2 separate regions of the Homo sapiens genome follow, and region 1 is linked to region 2. The links come from fine-mapping of genetic effects on gene expression. A gene starts in region 2. The other region holds a variant in brackets. All regions are shown on one strand. Distances are from middle to middle. Region 1 holds the start of LOC124902212 (a long non-coding RNA gene). Region 2 holds the start of CARD19 (caspase recruitment domain family member 19).

Evidence for each region. PIP is the estimated chance that this variant, and not a neighbour inherited with it, causes the effect.
Region 1: its variant is fine-mapped to the expression of CARD19 in lymphoblastoid cells (TwinsUK, PIP 0.95).

The regions. Positions count from the first base shown.
Region 1 is chr9:93,125,776-93,134,092 of GRCh38, reverse strand. It overlaps NINJ1 (ninjurin 1), which reads left to right. Exons shown (of 4, transcript NM_004148.4): 2 at 7,455-7,683. LOC124902212 (a long non-coding RNA gene) reads right to left here and starts at 1,081. Exons shown (of 3, transcript XR_007061665.1): 1 at 500-1,081. RefSeq lists a silencer at 48-297 and enhancers at 588-637, 2,119-2,716, 2,717-3,315, 5,942-6,001, 6,759-7,410. The variant A/G (reference allele first, on the strand shown) is at 3,649.
Region 2 is chr9:93,091,768-93,100,084 of GRCh38, reverse strand. CARD19 (caspase recruitment domain family member 19) reads right to left here and starts at 3,868. Exons shown (of 6, transcript NM_032310.5): 1 at 3,733-3,868. The coding sequence starts at 3,739. LOC101927993 (a long non-coding RNA gene) reads left to right here and starts at 4,575. Exons shown (of 4, transcript NR_188444.1): 1 at 4,575-4,717; 2 at 5,071-5,514; 3 at 7,992-8,093. RefSeq lists enhancers at 1,568-1,637, 4,831-4,880 and silencers at 3,511-3,620, 3,641-4,390, 4,411-4,720.

The DNA of each region.
Region 1 (8,317 bases), 34 kb before region 2:
GGGGCGCCGCGGCTCCCCGGGCACCTGTGTGCGCCGCGTCCGCACTGCAGAGTGTTGGGGGACGTCCCGCTCTAGGCCAAGTCCTTCCCGCCCCATCAGGGTCAGAACGATGCCCCCGGGAGCTCCAGCCACCCCCGGCAAGTGGGCGGGACGAGGGGGCGTGGGGGCGCAGGGCGGGCTGGCGTCCCCAGCCCCACTAAGCAGCGCCCGCGCTTGGCTGCACGGCGGAGGGGGCCTCGGCGCAGCTCCTCGGGCTAAGGACTGCCGGCGCCCGGCTTTCCCGACCTCCCCCCCACTCTCGCGCGGGCCTCTCTAACTTCAGCCTCGCCGTGCCGGCTCCTCCGCGCACTTTGCCCGGAGGCGGGCGGAGGGGAGTCACAGCCTCCGGGCTCCAGACCAGCTGCATGCAGACAGTTACGTCACCCCACGCTGACCACACAATCTGATGCGTGCCTTGATGGGGGAACTTGGGGCCCGCTGTGGTCCCTATTCCACTCACCTGCCTTGAGAAATAGAAACGTCACACAGCCTTCAGTGTATGCCGCCACCGGCCCTCCAGAACTTGCCCTGCCCGGCCTGGGAGGGCTGTGGGCAGGGGGCAGGCCCTGGTAGTGGTCCCGCTTCAGAATTCTTCATCCCAGGACTCAGCACTTACTGAGCACCTTGTGTTTGTTGCAAGGTCCTGGCATGGCCCTCTGGTGACTTGTTTACTTTGAACATTCTTTCCTTTTCTAACCCCCTCAGGGATGGGGGCAGGGAACAGCAGCCTGTTGGGTTTTTCCAGGCCTCTCCATGGCGTGGACCAGACTGGGGCAAAGACACTCTGCCCACTCGCTGGTGAACAGTCCTAGGCCGGTGCTGTGGGGACAGGACATGTTCGGGGAGGCGGGGCCCCATGAGCCACGGGATAGGATGGCCCTGGGGCTGCATGGACACTTGTTCCTAGGTTAGAGAGGAGCTGTCGCACTGCAGGACTTGACCGGTGTGCGGGACCCCAGCGACCTGGCCCTGCCCCAGTGTGTGAGCACTTTGGAGCAATAGGCAGGGGGCTCCTCCGGCTGTGTGTCCTTGGGAAGTTGCCACACCTCGCTGGGCCTTTTAGACATGGTCTTATAAAGAGAGAACAAAGGGTCTCTCCTGCCTTCAGGGAAGTGGGGAAAGCAAGTCAGGTAATAAACAGGTCAGTGGCTTGGAAGCGCCTTGGAAAGGAAGGGATACTGCTCCTCCCCCAACCCTGACCTTGCCCGGGCAATGCCCTCCACTCAGAGCAGTCTCTGCTCACTTCTGCGGGCGGCAGGATAGGCTGTGCCTCCTGAGATGGGTGCATCTCAAGCCCAGAGGAGATTGGGTTGGATTTGTTCCCGGATCACTGTCTTGGCTCTGGGCACCAGAGGGAGAGAGACACAGCCCCGCCCCACCAAGCCGCGGTTGGAGAGCAGCCCAGCCCAGACAGGGCAGGAGAGGCCAGGGCAAAGCAGGGGGTTCCCTGGGGGCTGGGAGCCCATCGTGGGGGGCGGGGCATGGTGGTCAGGGAAGGCTTTCTGTGGAGGTGGGGACATTGGCTCTGAGCCCTGGAGGGCAGGGAAGGTGGGTGAGCAGATCTGGCTCTCTGAGATGTGTGGAAGGGCATCTAGGCAGAGGGAACAGTGGGAGCAAAGGCTCAGAGGCTGGACCACAGAGCACATGAGGGCCAGGTAGGAGGTGGGGGGATGGGAAGCCAGGCCGATGGGAGGGGCCTTGCAGGCCTGATCACGGTCTGGTGTCCAGGGAGCTGTGGAAAGGCTATGAGCCAGTGTGAGGATGAGCACATTTCCCCTTGAGGGGTAGAAAACTTCGAGGGCCGCTCTGCTCACCCAGCCTGGGGGCCCAGGACCACCCAACACACCTGTTCCTCTTCCCAACCTCAAGACCTTGCTTCTCCGTTTCTTGGGCACATCATGTCAGCACTCTGTGCCTCAGTTTCTCATCTGTGAAATGGGTGTGGTCGCGGTGCCTGCCATAGAGAGTGGTGAGGACTCAGTAGCTGATGTATATGAAGTGCTTAGAGCCAGGCCAGCACTCAGCGCCCTCATCCTTCTGCCTGCCACGGAGACCCTCTCCCACTGGTGACCCCTGGCAGTGGTTTGGAGAGGGCAGCGCTTTGCCCAGCTCCCTCAGTTTCCTTTTCTGTAAAATGGAGAGTCTCAGTTTCCTTTTCTGTAAAATGGGGCACAACTGCTCACCTCCCAGGGTGGACAAGGCTCAGGGAGGAGCCACACGTGGAACTCCAACCTGGGTGGGCTCTGTTGGGCCACGGCCGTGGGAAGCTCTCAGGTCTCCCCTACCCCGTGTGCCCTGCGCCCCTGTGGCCCTTCATGTGAGGGCCCCCATCAGTGTCCAGGGATTGAGTCAGCTCACTTGTGGCTGTCAGCAGAAGGAATAGTAAACAACAATGTTAATGTGAAAATGGCCTGAATCTGTTATCCCCAGGGTGTCTCAAGGCAGGGAGGTGGTGGGGATGGGGTTAGGACACGGCCATCTGGTGCCAGCCACACCTTCCTGCCCCTCACAGCCCGCAGGTTGAAGGTTCCTGGGGCCACATCTGGGCCGAGAGGCATGGTCCTTGGAGGTAGGTAGCTGTGCCCTGTATACCTGCCGTCTGGGCCGTGCATGGCCTCAGCTGCCCAGGAGGAGGTTTGCTCGTTTCCTCATTTCCGCTTTCCTGGCAGATCCTGAGGCCGGCAGGGTCTGGGCCAAGTTCTAAAAGGCAACCCTAACATGGTCTCAGGGCCACTCGTGGCCAGTGCTGAGTCCGCGGGAAGTGGGTCTGCCTGGCCCAGCTGTGGTGGGAACCCCGCCTTCCAGCACTTCCTGCTGTCTTGCTGGGGTTTCCTGCCAGGAACACAGACATGGAGCTGGGAGACCCTCTCAGGGCCTGCTTCCTGGGCTGGCCGGTAGGAGACGGTGCAGGGCTCCAGTGCCAGGCCCTGCCTGTCTGTGTGGCATCTGGGGAATGGGCACAGCAGCTCATGCCCACACTGGTGGGTCAGACAAGGGATGCCGGAAGCCCCAGGCAGGTCCTAGCATATGGTGGGGTAGAAGAGGGGTGCCTGATTTTCAGGTCGCCCCACCATCTGCCAATGCCTGCTGAGTCCAAGGGTTAGGGCCAGTGAGCAGGACAGGCTGCGAGCAGCCAAGGTGTAGACTGGGACCCCCCAGGCACCCAGGGCAGGCACCTCGTCCCTGTTGTCCCCCTGGGTCCTGCTCAGCACAGGAGAACCTGTGCCCCAGGCTGTCCTTTCTTTGCTGTGTGACTGTTTTGTGAGCCTGTTCAGCTGCTTTTGAGTCAGTGGAGTTGGTCGGGGAGGCAGAGTCTTTCAAAACAGTGAGAGCCAGGCATCAAGGAAAACAGCCCTGCCACCCACTGCCATGCGCTCCACCAGCCACGGGGCATCTGAGACCACCCCATTCAGTCCCCTCCACATCCTTGTCTACCCATTTTACAAATGAGGAAACTGAGGCATAGAGTGGTCAGTGTTGAGGCAGGACTCGGGGGGTAAAGGAGGTGCTGTGGCAGCTTCCAGCCCTACTCCTCACAGGCCCCTGGAAAGGGCGACTGATATGCATCACCACATTTGTGGGCCCACAGCCCCGACCCTGTCTCCTCCC[A/G]TCCAAGCCCTGGGTGAGCCAGAACACCCATTATGCTATGGCCAGAGCCAGGCCGGTGGATGCAGCAAGCCTGGTTCATATCCCACTTCTGTGCCAGCCCCTCCTGCCTGAGCTGAGGATGCTCACTGAAGTGGCCCTAGGACCGACCGTGTGGCCCAGCCCCAACATGTGCAGCCTGCAGTGGGGAGGCCGACCGTCCACAGAAGGTTGCATGAGGAGCCAGCCACGCCCCTACACAGAGCTGACCTCCTCACCAAGCCTCCCTCCTAGCTTTCAGAGGAAATATATCTGGCCTGGCCCCAGGCCCCGAGTGCTGCTGAGGTTCTGGGAATCTATTAACCAGGGTGTTTATTCCCTGCCCTGCCCAAGCCATGGGCACTGGTCTCAGCAGGGCTTAGCTCCTGGCAGCTCCTGCTGGCTGGTCAGGACCACAGGGCTCCCTCACCTGTGGTAGCTGGGTCCCCCGGCCACCCTCAGGCCCATCCCAAGATAGAGGCAAGTGCCCAGGACTGGGGGAGAGTGGGATCGTCCTCCCTGGGACCCTCCTGTGTGGTGGTCAGCTCAGGGCTCCAAGGCCCAGAGTACCAAGGTTAGGGACAGGGAAGCAGACTGTCCCTGCTGCCCTCCCCTCCACATGATGCTCCCAATGTGGCCTGCTGCCTGGGGTGGTTGCCAGCTATGCTGTATCCTGGGGCAGCCCTATGCTTTGGGACACACAGTCCTGGGAGATGGCTCTGGGAAAACCTCCTCTGAGCTGCAATCTGCTGGTCTGTAGAATGGGAGAGGAACACAGCCTCTCCCTTGGTAAGCAGGAGTTTCCCAGGTGCAACCCTAGATATACGGAGGGGGAGACTGAGGCCAACGGAGGGGGAGCTTGCGTCAGGGCCACGGGCTGGGCTGTGGTGAGCCAGGGCTTGACCTGCATGCAGAAGCTTCCCTAGCTGCAGGTTGGACAGGAAGCAGATGGCCGGATGGGCTGGAAGTGCCCTTCACCAGCAGGGGTGCATGGTCAGGGCATTTGCTGGCCACTCGGGGCTCAGAGGCCATCCTGGGGCATCTGCTCCACAGCCTCGTGGTACACATGGAAGACTGAGGCACAAAGTGGGGCTAGTTGTCCGGACACAGCTGGAGCCTGAAGCAGGGAGCCATTGAGAGTTCAGCCCCTAAGGGACAATGGCATCAGCTACCAGAGCTTCTGAGCCCCGGGGCCTGGGTTCAAATCCTAGCCAAGCCCTCACTTGCTATGTGGCTTTGGGTAAGGAACCGCCTTTGCTGGGCTTCAGTTTACCCACCTTAAGTGGGCATGAGGACAGCAGGGGCACAGGCTCCTCGTGGCTGGGGGTGCTGAGAGCTGAGGCTTGGGGAGCTGGAGGCTCTGCGCGGATGGTGCTTTTTAATGGATCTGAGTGTTCCTCGTGACTGCATGGCTGTGAAATATTTAAATGGTTCTGCAGAGCTCAGAAAAAAAGGGAATTCTTCCTCCTGCCCAGAGGCCAACACAGTTAGCCTGGGCTTGTGTGTCTGTTTATGTACGTGTGCATATGTATGTATGTGCATGTGTATTTGTGTGTGCGTATTGTGTGCACATGTGTGTCTCACGTCTATGTGTGTCTTTCTGGGGGATGTGTGTTTCTGTGCTTTTGTGACTAGGAACACGCACATATATGTGTAGATGCCCCCAGAAGGTGGAAATCCTCACGGGGTCTGCACTTGGCCTTCTCCCAGCACCAAGTCCTGGGATGGAGACCCGAATGAGCATAAGGGTGGCCTTGAAGGAAGGCACTTTGGCACTTGAGGTTTGTGAAACTTAGGAGCACATGCCCACTGTGGCCAGCAGCCCCTGGGACACTGCACCTTGCGGAGCACACGTGTGATGGGGTGTGGCCCACTGGGCAGCTTCGCAAGAGCAGAACTGGAGACGACCTCAGTGCCAGGCACAGGCCCTTGTGTCCGGGCTGTCCTCACCCAGACCCTGGGCAGCCTGGGAGGAAGCCCCTAAGTGGACAGTGGTGGGACAGGGACACACAGTCCTGGGAGGTGGCTCTGGGCAAACCTCCTCCAAGCTGCAATCTGCTGGTCTGTAGAATGGGAGAGGAACACAGCCTCTCACTTGGTGAGTGCCCTGGCTGTGCTGGGGCCTGGGGGAATCCCAGGGAGTGCAGCGTCAGGCCCAGGGTGGGAGAGGCAAAGTAGACACCCCATAGAGGCTTCGGGGTATGCATGGAGTGACCCGAGAGCACACCAGGGCCCCAGGGACAGCGCTGCTGGGTGGCCCAGGTAAAGGCGGCTGTCCCTGTGCGCACATGTGTCCACGTGAACTTGCTACTTAGAGAGCAGCTGATGCTGAAGGCAGGTTGTTGGAATTCCCAGGCCCAGGTGTAAGCAGCAGAGCCCACCAGTGTCCCCTGACGCCCACTCTCTTCCTCCTGGGCACATAATTTTAGATGAAACTGAAAAACACGCAGCATGAAAGCAAGGCCCCTGCCCTCTGCTGGTTCTGTATTGGCTGCCTCGTGTATTTTTCCAGCCTGCAGAAAGTCGAGGCCTGGATGGATACCATGTCCGCCCCTCCCTGTGGCCCTGCGGCACCCCGGCCTCCCGGCCTGCATCTTTCATGAGTCTGGAAACAGGATCTCCCAGAGAGGGCCCCAGGAGGTTGGCTGCCAGCAGTGGGTTCTCACAGCTGCCTCCAAGCAGGTGACCAGTCCTGGGAGGCTGTGGTCTAGGGCCTGGCAACTCAGGGGCGCCTGTGGACAAAGGGCCGGGCCAAGGGGCTGGCAGGTTTGTCCTGAGTGACTGAAGAGGGCCCCACCAGGGCAGCTTGAGAGGGGCAGACTCTTGCTCCAGAGAAAGAGGAAGTTTGGTACTTAGCTTGGAATGAAGGGCCAGCCCTAGAGAGGACCTTCCTGTGGCAGGAGAGAGGGCCATGTCCTGCCAGGGGAAGTCCTGGGAGGCTTCCTGGAAGCAGTGGCCTCTGTGTGGGGCCTTGGAGCTTGAGAGTGTCTGGCACCAGGGAAAGGCATTGGGGGCTTCGAGAGAACTGCAGGGGGCCCTGACCAGATAGGCCCCTAAGGCAAAGAGGATTCCATCAGAACTCGCATTCCCATTTTATTACTCTGGGAAGTAATGTGGAAGCTAAGCTCCACTGTATGTCGTATGCTGAGGCATCTGTTGAGCCTCTGCTGTGTCGGGGCCGGGCTCTGGGTGGCCCACCTCAGTGAAGTCTTGCTGCTAATGGCCGAATAGTTCTGCAAGGCCTGTGCTGAGGCCTGGAGGCGAGTGGCCTGTTGGGCCCCAAGGCTGGGAGGTTGGGAGGTGGCAGGGGCGATCTCTGCCCTTAGGTCCGGCCCAGGAGGACTTGCTTCTTGCCTGGGCCGGTGTGCACAGATCTGTCCGCCCACACGTCACTTCCTTTCCTGGCATCAGGAGCTCAGACTCTGAGGGGAGGGGGAGAGGAGGCCGGGGGCACAGACCGGTAGGGGCAGGCAGGGAGGAGCAGCCCCGCCTATGGCAGGAGTGGGAGGATCGGGCAATGCTTTCCAGTGGAAAATCAGAGTGCGTGTGCTAAGGTTGCTATGTCGTTTCCTTTCTCTCCAGGACCGTATTCCTAGGGGAGGTTTTATAAAGGCTGAGCACATGCTCGCAGCCTCTCCTTAGGGTAATAAGCACTTCTGTCTGAGCACTTACCAGGGGTGGGGGCAAGGGAAGCCCTCACCTGCAGGGCCCGGTGACCCCCAGAGCCCGACTCAGGCACAGCCCTTGCCCCCCTCCCCCACCCGCCTTGCTGACCATTCCCCTCCCTGCAGCCGGCCCGCTGGGGCTGGAGGCACGGGCCCATCAACGTGAACCATTACGCCAGCAAGAAGAGCGCAGCCGAGAGCATGCTGGACATCGCGCTGCTGATGGCCAACGCGTCCCAGCTGAAGGCCGTCGTGGAACAGGGCCCCAGCTTCGCCTTCTATGTGCCCCTGGTGGTCCTCATCTCCATCTCCCTTGTGCTGCAGATCGGCGTGGGGGTGCTGCTCATCTTCCTTGGTAGGTCCCCAGGTGGGGGCAGCCAGGCCACCTGCTCACCTTGCTGGCATCTGCTCGCATCGCCTGGGACAGGTGCCCACCACCTTGCACACTTGGCTCTCAAGGAGCTGCCGAGTTCCTGGCCCTCATCACCCAGACATGCAGTCCAGGAAGTGGCACCCCCCCTCCCCCCACCCTGCACTTTGGTTTTTGTTTTGTTTTGTTTTGTTTTTTGAAACAAGGTCCCCCTCTGTCACCCAGGCTGGAATGCAGTGGCGCAGTCTCGGCTCACTGCAAGCTGCATCTCCTGGGCTCAAGCGATCCTCCCACCTCAGCCCCCAAAGTAACTGGGATTACAGGCGCTCATCACCATGCCCGGCTAATTTTTGTATTTTTTGTAGAGATGAGGTTACGCCATGTTGCCCAGTCGAATTTTTGAGCTCAAGTGATCCAACAGCCTCAGTCTCCCAAAATACTGGGATTACAGGCATGAGTCACCACGCTCAGCCTTGTTTTGTTTTGTTTTGTTTTGTTTTTGAAACCGGGTCTTGCTGTGTCTTGATCACAGCTCACTGCAGTCTCAACCTCCCAGGCTCAAGCGAGCCTTCTGCCTCAGCCTCCCAGGTAGGCTGGACCACAGCTATATGCCATCATG
Region 2 (8,317 bases):
CGTCTCAGTACGCTCGCCCTGTGCGGGGCTGGGGACCACGGTGATGGGCAGATCCATCCTCCAGGGGCTCACAGTGTAGGGGTGCGGGCTGGCATTCACCAAGCAAACCCACAAACGTATCCTTAACCCCAGAGATACCTGCCCTCCAGAGAACAATAGGGGGGCCATCCTGGTTCACAGGGCCCCTGATGATGCCCACATTGAGGCCATCAGCCACTCCATCATCTGGCTGAAGCCACTCACCGTGGGCCGCGCAGGGAGGCAGATGGCTGGGGGCTGGAAAGGCTGGCTCAGCCCTCACCTGCACTGAGTCCCACAGCAGCCTATGCGGACTTGCCAGCAGCCCCATCATGGTGAGGAAGCTGAGCACAGGGACGTCAAGTGACCTGCCAAGGCCACATGGACAGGCCCAGCTGGGCAGTCTGGGTCCAGCGCCTGCAGCCCTCTCGTTAAAGAACTAAGATGAATTAGCCAAAATTCACAGAGCAATCCCATATGTCTGGCACTCTGTGAGCCCTACGTCACCTACAACCTTCATCCTTCCAACAGCTTTGCAACATAAGGACAACCACCAGCCCCATTTTCAGGTAGGGAAACTAAGGCACAGTGAGAAGATAAGGTACCTGCCCAAGACTGCAACCAGATATGAAGTGACAGATCAAGATCCAGGCCCAGGCACAGCCATGTTGAGGACCACCTCTTGATATTCAGACGTTCTGCCTCTCTAATTAACATGGAAATTCACTGTAATCAGCTACAGCAGTCTACTCCCTGCCAGTCCAAAAGCACGCCCAAGGCTGTCCTCTCCAGCATTGCCCACTTGGCTGAGCACCCAGTAGGTGCTCACTAAAGAGTTCTGCAGGCCGGACGCGGTGGCTCACGCCTATAATCCCAGCACTTTGGGAGGCCGAGGCAGATGGATCATGAGGTCAGGAGTTCAAGACCAGCCTGGGCAACATGGTGAAACCCCATCTCTACTAAAAATACAAAAAAAATTAGCTGGTCATGCTGGCACACGCCTGTATTCCCAGCTACTCAGAAGGCTGAGCCAGCTACTCAGGAGGCTAAGGCAGAAGAATTCCTTGAACCCAGGAGGCAGAGGTTGCAGTGAGCCAAGATTGCACCACTGCACTCCAGCTTGGGTGACAGAATGAGACTCTGTCTCAAAAAAAAAAAAAAAAAAAGAGTTCTGCAATGTATGGTCCAAGACCCAGGGGCAAGGGCTGTAGGTGGACCGTGGCCAGCATCCTGTAGTGGCTTCCTCCTGCCCTGCAAGCCGCTAACCAGGCAGAGCCTCCGCTGCTGCAGAGCCATGAGTCACCATGAGCCGTGAGTCAGCTGGCACAGGCCGCACGGTCCGGAGGCTGAAGCCAGGCTCTGCGGCTTGGGGGTCCTGTGCTTCCTGTGGTTGCGAGTTGTGCACACAAACAGGCAGCACTTGGAAGCCAGAAAAGGCACAAGAAGGGAAACCATCTCAGTGCCAGCTCCCGATAAACAAGTCCCTGAACTGTTTTTACAGGACAAAGGAAGATGGCTCGCTCTGGCACAGACCTGGCAAGCCTTCACCACGCCCTACATCCCCTTCCTTCTTGCCAGGCTGGCACCAGGACTATGGACCCCCATTCAAACACCCCAATATGAACCTTCTTATCAGCCCAGACTGATGCCCTCAGCCTGGCATTCAAGGCCCCGTGGGAGCTGGCCCCACCCACTCTCACCGGGCCCTCTAGGCCCACAAGACATCTCAGCCCAGGCTGAGAATACCTGTTCCTTGGTTTCCACCTGGTTAATTCATGTTCACCTTGCTGTTCTACGTGCAAAAGGCCTTCCTGAGTTCCTGTCATCCCCAACCAACTGGAGTCCAGACACTTGGGCATCAACCTCCTCTCCCGAATTTCTTCCAGGAAACCCCTTCTCTCAGTGCTCAGCCCAACTAAAACTGCTCACTCCCCGGCACAGCCCAGGGGGTAACTTGTCAAGCACCTGCCCCACGCAGACACCTCCTCAGCGTTCTGCAGGCACTGGCTCACATGCGCTGCTCACAGCGAGGGCTGGCGCAAGGCAGGACCCCAGTTGGTGCATGGAGGCAGTGAGCCTGGGACTATGGGTCTGCAGCCTCGCAGGGCTGTCCATATGACCCTCCCAGAGCTGTGCTCCATGGGCCTTGGTTCCCCATCCCAAAAACTAAGGGTTGTGAGGGAATGTCTCCAGGCCCAGTGAGTAGACATAGCAGGTAGGAAGCATACACTGGACAAGGTGAGGCCTATAGTCAGAGCCTTCAGGGACCCCTGCCTGATGTGGTTTCCCAGCTCCAGGGTCCCCTTATGCAAGGAAGCTTCCCTGACAGGCAGAAAGGGACAAAGTCCCTTTGTGCAGGAAGGCTCCTTAATGGACAGCAAGGCCTCAGGCTCTGCCAACACCCAGTCCCTGGGACAGGGCTCCCTGGAGACCAACACAGCTCTGAGTTGTGTCCCACGCATTCTGATGAACTCACTAAGGGAATTACGGAATCCCAGCCTGGGCAGGGCACAATTTAAGACTTTGTTTCCCCATCTGTACACAGACGAGATATTCCAGGTGTCCCCATCTGATCATTTTCAAACAGGAATCACCCAACACAGGGTCCAATGCACAGTAAGTGCTCAGAAATGAGAGCCACAAATAAGAAGAGTTAGAAGGGAGGACAAAGGGGAGCAGGTGGCAGCTGGGGTCTCTTGTGGCCTAGGCTGGAAGTCTCTTCTGGCCTGGTGTCCTGGAAGTCATCAGTTTCCAGCCCATGAGATCCTATTTGTGGGCAGGACCTAGGCTGAGACTCAAGAGAGCGAGCACCGAGAGAGGACTAGGGACTTCTGGGGCTACCCTGAGCCCCTGAGCCAATTCTGCTCCATGAAACAGAACAGTAAGAATGAAGTGTAGCTTCTGGGAACCCCCATACTCCCTGGCCGGGCTGCCATGGGGTCCCTTACCAGCCCATCACCCTCATGGGGCTTCTCCAACAGGGGAAGGTCCACAGGGCAGAGTCACCCTGTTTGGGATCAGGAGGATGGTGGGCAGGTCCCCAGACCAGAGAGGCCCTGGGGAGGAAGGCTGGGCTGGGGCCACTAGCGTGGAGCACAACAACCTTGGGGGGTCCAGTCGCTGTCCCCGATTCTCTTAGAACTAAACAGGGGCAAGAGCGTCGTGGACCACCGAAGGAGTCTGGGAGACTCCAAGAGTCCCACAGGAATCACATGCCGCCGAGGAACGCATCGCCTGTCCCGCGACCTCGCTGGGGTGGTTGTAAGGATGGAGCGTTGTTTCCGTGGCCAGAATCACAGCAGGACCGCTGTGAATTCTCTCCGGTGTCATTTCTACCACCTCCTACTCTTTCAGACCAAATTCCCCACCACGGGACACACACACATTGGCAGTGGCTGAGCCCAGACCGCGGCTGTGCAGCCCCACCCTGGAGCTGCCTTGTAGCCCCCGCCCTCTTCGGGCCCCGCACCTGGCCACCACCCATCATGCCCGGCACCGCCTCGGCTGGCACGGCCCCGCCGGGTAGAAGCCCCGGGACACCCACCACTTCGCGGGGGTGCACTCGCGCACCACCGACAGCTGACGGGCCAAGGTCACTCGGCCCCCGCTGCCCAGGCGCGGCCTGCAGGCGACTCGCAAGGCAGCCGGACCCCCGGGCCGGGCCACCCATCCAGGGCGCCCGCATCCCTGCCGCCCAGCCGACCCCGTGCCCACCTGTCATGGCGACGGACACAGCGCCGCCCGCAGTCCCCAGCGGTCTGCCCCGCCGCGCGTCCGCCCCTCGGTCAGCCGCCCGGTCCACCAGCTCCAGCGAACGCCGCCCGCGGGCCGTGCTCGCCCGCCCCTTTTGGCTAGGCCAGCCCCCCGGCTTTGGCTGTGTAGCCTCGGGGACTCTAAACCCCGCCCTTTGACGAGCCCCGCCCCCTACCGTTAGGCCCCGCCCCTTCCGCGCCCGCTACGGCTCCCCCAGGGCTCTAAACTCCGCCCCTCTCACTCGAGTCCCGCCCCCTTGCCGTCCTGGGATAGGCCGCTGCGAGGATCCTGGAGCCTTGCCCCTCACTCGAGCCCCGCCCCCTCCGGCGTCGGCTTCCGCCTCTCCCGGAGTTCTGAGCCCCGCCCTGCACCTGAACCCCGCCCCCTCCGACGACGGCTTCCGAGCCTCAAGGAACCCCCCACCGGGCCCCGCCCCTTACTCGAGCCCCGCCCCCCTCCGTCGTCGGCCTCCGCGCCTCCAGGGGCCCTGAGCCCCGCCCCTTCCTGCTCTGCCATGCGACTGCGGGCGTGGGCGGGCGACTGCGGGCGTGGGCGGGCGCCACCGGACTCCCGCCCCTCCCAGCGTCAGTTAAGACGCCGCGAGGGGCCCAGAGTCCCTCCCCTCGCTGGGCCCCGGTCCCGCCGGCGTCTATAACGCCGTCGCAGCGGCCTTTAACCCCGCCTCTCACTCGAGCCCTGCCCGCGTCCAAGTCCCGCCCTCAAGGCGGCCTCAGCTACGACCGCCGCGCGCCTCCCTGGAGGCGCCCGCTCCTGCCCGGAGCCCTGCCCGTCTTGGGCCCGCCCTTCCGGGCCCTGCCGCGTTGAGTGGCGGAGTCGGGATCCAGGTGGCCCGCCGGCCGGCTCAGTCCACCTCCCCGCTCCCGGCCTCGCGCCCCACCCCTTGGATGAGAAAACTGAAACTGAGAGGGGACGTGACTGATCCAACGTCATACAGAAAGTCAGGCCCTGGGGAGTACAGGGCCAGGCCTGGGGCAAAAGGCCGGTGGGCGTCCAGTACGCCACAGGGACCAGCCAAAGGAGGCAGTGCCCAGTGATGCTTTCCCAAATCCAGGGGAGAAGGACTCAACGGTGTGACCTCGCTCGGCGGGGTGGGGGGGGGACACCTTCTTGGGGGACCCCAGTCCCCCACCTTCAAAAGAAGACACTAGCTTGACAGTGTGACCCGAACTAGAGAGGTCACTTAACCTGCCTGAGCCTCAGTTTCCTGGACTGTAAAATGAGTGACCTTGGGCCAACTCCACTTCCCTCCCGCTTTCCTTCCTGCTTTCCCTCTCGTAGGCCTGGCATTTCCAGCTCCGGAGCCCGCCACAAGAAGCTCCTAGCCCCACATGATGTGAATGCACTGGGCCCCAGCCAGGAAGTGGAGACCCGTGAAGGAAGGAATAGCAGCACTCTCCCAGCCAGCAGCAGCAGTTTCCCTTCCTCTTTCCTTCCCTGCCTGTGTGGGCCGTTCCCCCATAGCAGCTCTAATTTGAGATGCCAGAGCCTGACCCGGAATGGGGGCCCAACTCAGTGTCCCCTTCTCGGACAGCACAGTGGTCCCTGCAGTCCATGCGCCATCTGTCTCTTTGCCTCAGTTCTCCCCTGTGCCATGACCTCCCATCAGGGCCGGCATAGGGGGCATCAGGAGAATGGGTGCAGTTGTCACCTGGAAACCTCAAAATTCTTGGGGCCCAGTCATGGTCACTATACAGCAGCCACCCCTGTCCCCAAACACTGAAGGTGAGCCCCGTCCATGCTCCCCAGGAGGCCAGGCTGCCATCAGACCCAGCCTGCCCCAGGCCCATGTACAGGGCCGTCCCAGGGCAGGAGGGTAGTGGACCAGCCTGTGGGTCCCTGCAGGCCTCTCATCTGCTTGTGTGCCTGGGTGAGTCCAGGCTGGCTCTGGCCTCCAGGTGCTCCCCTGGAGGACCCAGAGGGGGCTTCCCCAGAGGGCCTCTTTTGCCCCAGTGGGATGCAGCCTGACCCCAATTCTTCTGCATCCATCACACTGTTATGACGTGTAGTACTTACTTCTCTGGGTTTATTTTGCACACACTCCTGCCCCTGAGTGATGTCAGAGCCATAAGGGTGGCGACGGAGTGGAAGGGGGACACAGTGGGGACTGCAGGGGCTCCAGGCACTGCCCACCTTCAGGGAACCTTGACCCCAGCCCCTTTTGGGAAAGGTAGCATCCCACCTTCACATCCACTTCTGCGCCCTCAGGACTGCCCCTGGCCATGTGATGAACAGGGAAACTGAGGTTTGGAGCATGAAGCCCCTTGCCCAAAATCTAGCAGCCAGATGTGGCCTCCCAAGTACAGGTCGCTGTTCCTCAGCCACCTGAGGGTTTGAAAAGGATTTACTTAAAGGAACCCAAGCCTGCATGCAGGGACTGAAAGCCCTGTGCCCTCTGGGATGTGCCCTCCAACCCTATGAGATGGAAGGCCGCGGCAGAAAGCAGGACAGCTGCTGGTGCAGCCAGGGGTGTACAGCCTGGATGCCCACCACGGGGGCTGCAAGCAGGCACGGGCACCCCATGGTCAAATGGCAGATCCTGGGCATTCCCCCTCCCCCAGGCATAGCACACGCATCCTCCCTCCGGGCTAGCTCTTGCCAGCTGTGGCTGCCTGGACCCCAAATGGAAAGTGAGTTCTTGGGAAGGTGGAGGGGCCCCTTAGAAGGAGTGAAGTGAGGTGTGACAGGAAGCCCCGCCCTTGGACACTGTCAAAGAAAAACCAGAGCTGGACTGTGGTTACAGATGTAGAAACAGATTTTTATTCGGGACTCTTGTGATAGGGGAAGAGAGACATCAGCAGAGAACTGGGCTCAATTCCAAATACAGCAAGGACACTTGGGACAGGAGGGGACTTTGAGGATGGAAAATTAGGAAGAGGAAACATCAGGGTGAAGGGGATTCCGGCTGACAGAATTCTTGCAAAGACAGCCTGGGCTTACGAGACCTCACCCAGGGGATGGTGGGGGTAAGCACCCTGATTGGGTATCAAGGGTGATCAAGTATCCAGGGTGGGGAGTTCTTGCCAAACTCATTAGGAGGATTCTTTGTTGAAACTGGATTTTACAAGGAAGTTCACAGATGGGCCAAGGAGAAAGTTCAGGACCCTGGCTAAAGTTTGTCAAGCACAGAATCTTTGTCAACGTCACAGAAGCCAGAGCCCTGACACACACACACCCCCACTCCTCTGAACGGCCTCCACCTTACTATTTGCTTCTTTCAGATTTTCTTGCCATCACATGCTTGATCTCATTAGAAAGCAGGCACAATTTTAAAATTATACAGGCAAAGCTAATTTCCACAGGGGTTCTTTGCACTGGGTTGGGTGGGGGCACTCCCCCTGGTTTTCATAGGGCCAGCCATTCCTCAGGCCTCTGCTCACCTGCACCCTGACCCTGTGGGCTCTGCCTTCCAAGCCCAGCCCTGCTCCCACCTCAGTGACCGCCATCCCTGTTATGTCTTGCCTGGAAGGTGGCAGCCGCCTTCTCACATCTCACTGGTTCCCTGCCCCATCCTTGTCCCCATGGCCCAGTACCCACATAGTGGCCACAGGGGTCATAACACTGAGTCTGACCATCCTCCTCCCTCACCCGGGCTCACAGCCTTCCAGTTCCTCCAGCAGCCACCTCTGCCATTTACAAATCTTCATGTGTGCTGTGACCACCCAGAATGCTCTTCCCAGCTCTGTGTCTAGCATCCTCACCCCCACTTGGAGTCTGGCCCTTCTGGACCACGTCACTCGCCACTGCACCCCACCCCCCATCTCTGTTCTTCAGAGCACTAGTCTTGCCCTATGATGGCTTCTCCACTGACCATCATCTGTGCTGCAGTGTTCACTCCACAAAGGCTGGCATGCAGGAGGCACTTAATGAATGCACACAGATAGTTCTGTTGATGATTAGGGTTAAGGATAGGAGGGCAAGGACAGATGCTATAAAGATGACAGGGTGGCCTCCCCGAGAGGCTGATGCTGAAGAACGGGTGTTCCTAGGCCAGGGCAGGAGGCATGAGGCCCCCATGGGCTGTGGGAGACCTTCATGGCTGAAGCTGACTGTAACCAGGCCAAGAGGTGATGGTAGGTGATGAAGGGCCTGAACACCAAGGAGCAAGGACATTCTCCTCCCACATTCTCACATGGCCAGGGAGCATCATTTATCCATTCAGTCACTCATTAATTCATTCAACAAATATCTCCTAAACATAGGCCCAACCCAGAGCTGGATCACAAGGAAGACTGGAAGCTCCACTCCCCCATGGAGCTTCCCTGTTACCAGAGGACACAAACACACATCTGCATGTTGATCTGGTAAGAGCTAGGGAGATGAGTCAGGCAAAGAAAGAGGCGGAGGATGCCTATGAGGTTGCCAGCCTCCAAGGTGGCCCCAGCAATCCTCACATTCCAGGTCATGCCCTTGTGTAGTCTCCTCCCACAGTCAATCAGGCTGGTCTGTGTGGCCAGTGAAGTGTGGCAGGGGTGACAGTGTGACTTCTGAGGCTGGGTCACAGAGGCATCATGGCTTCAGCCTTTGC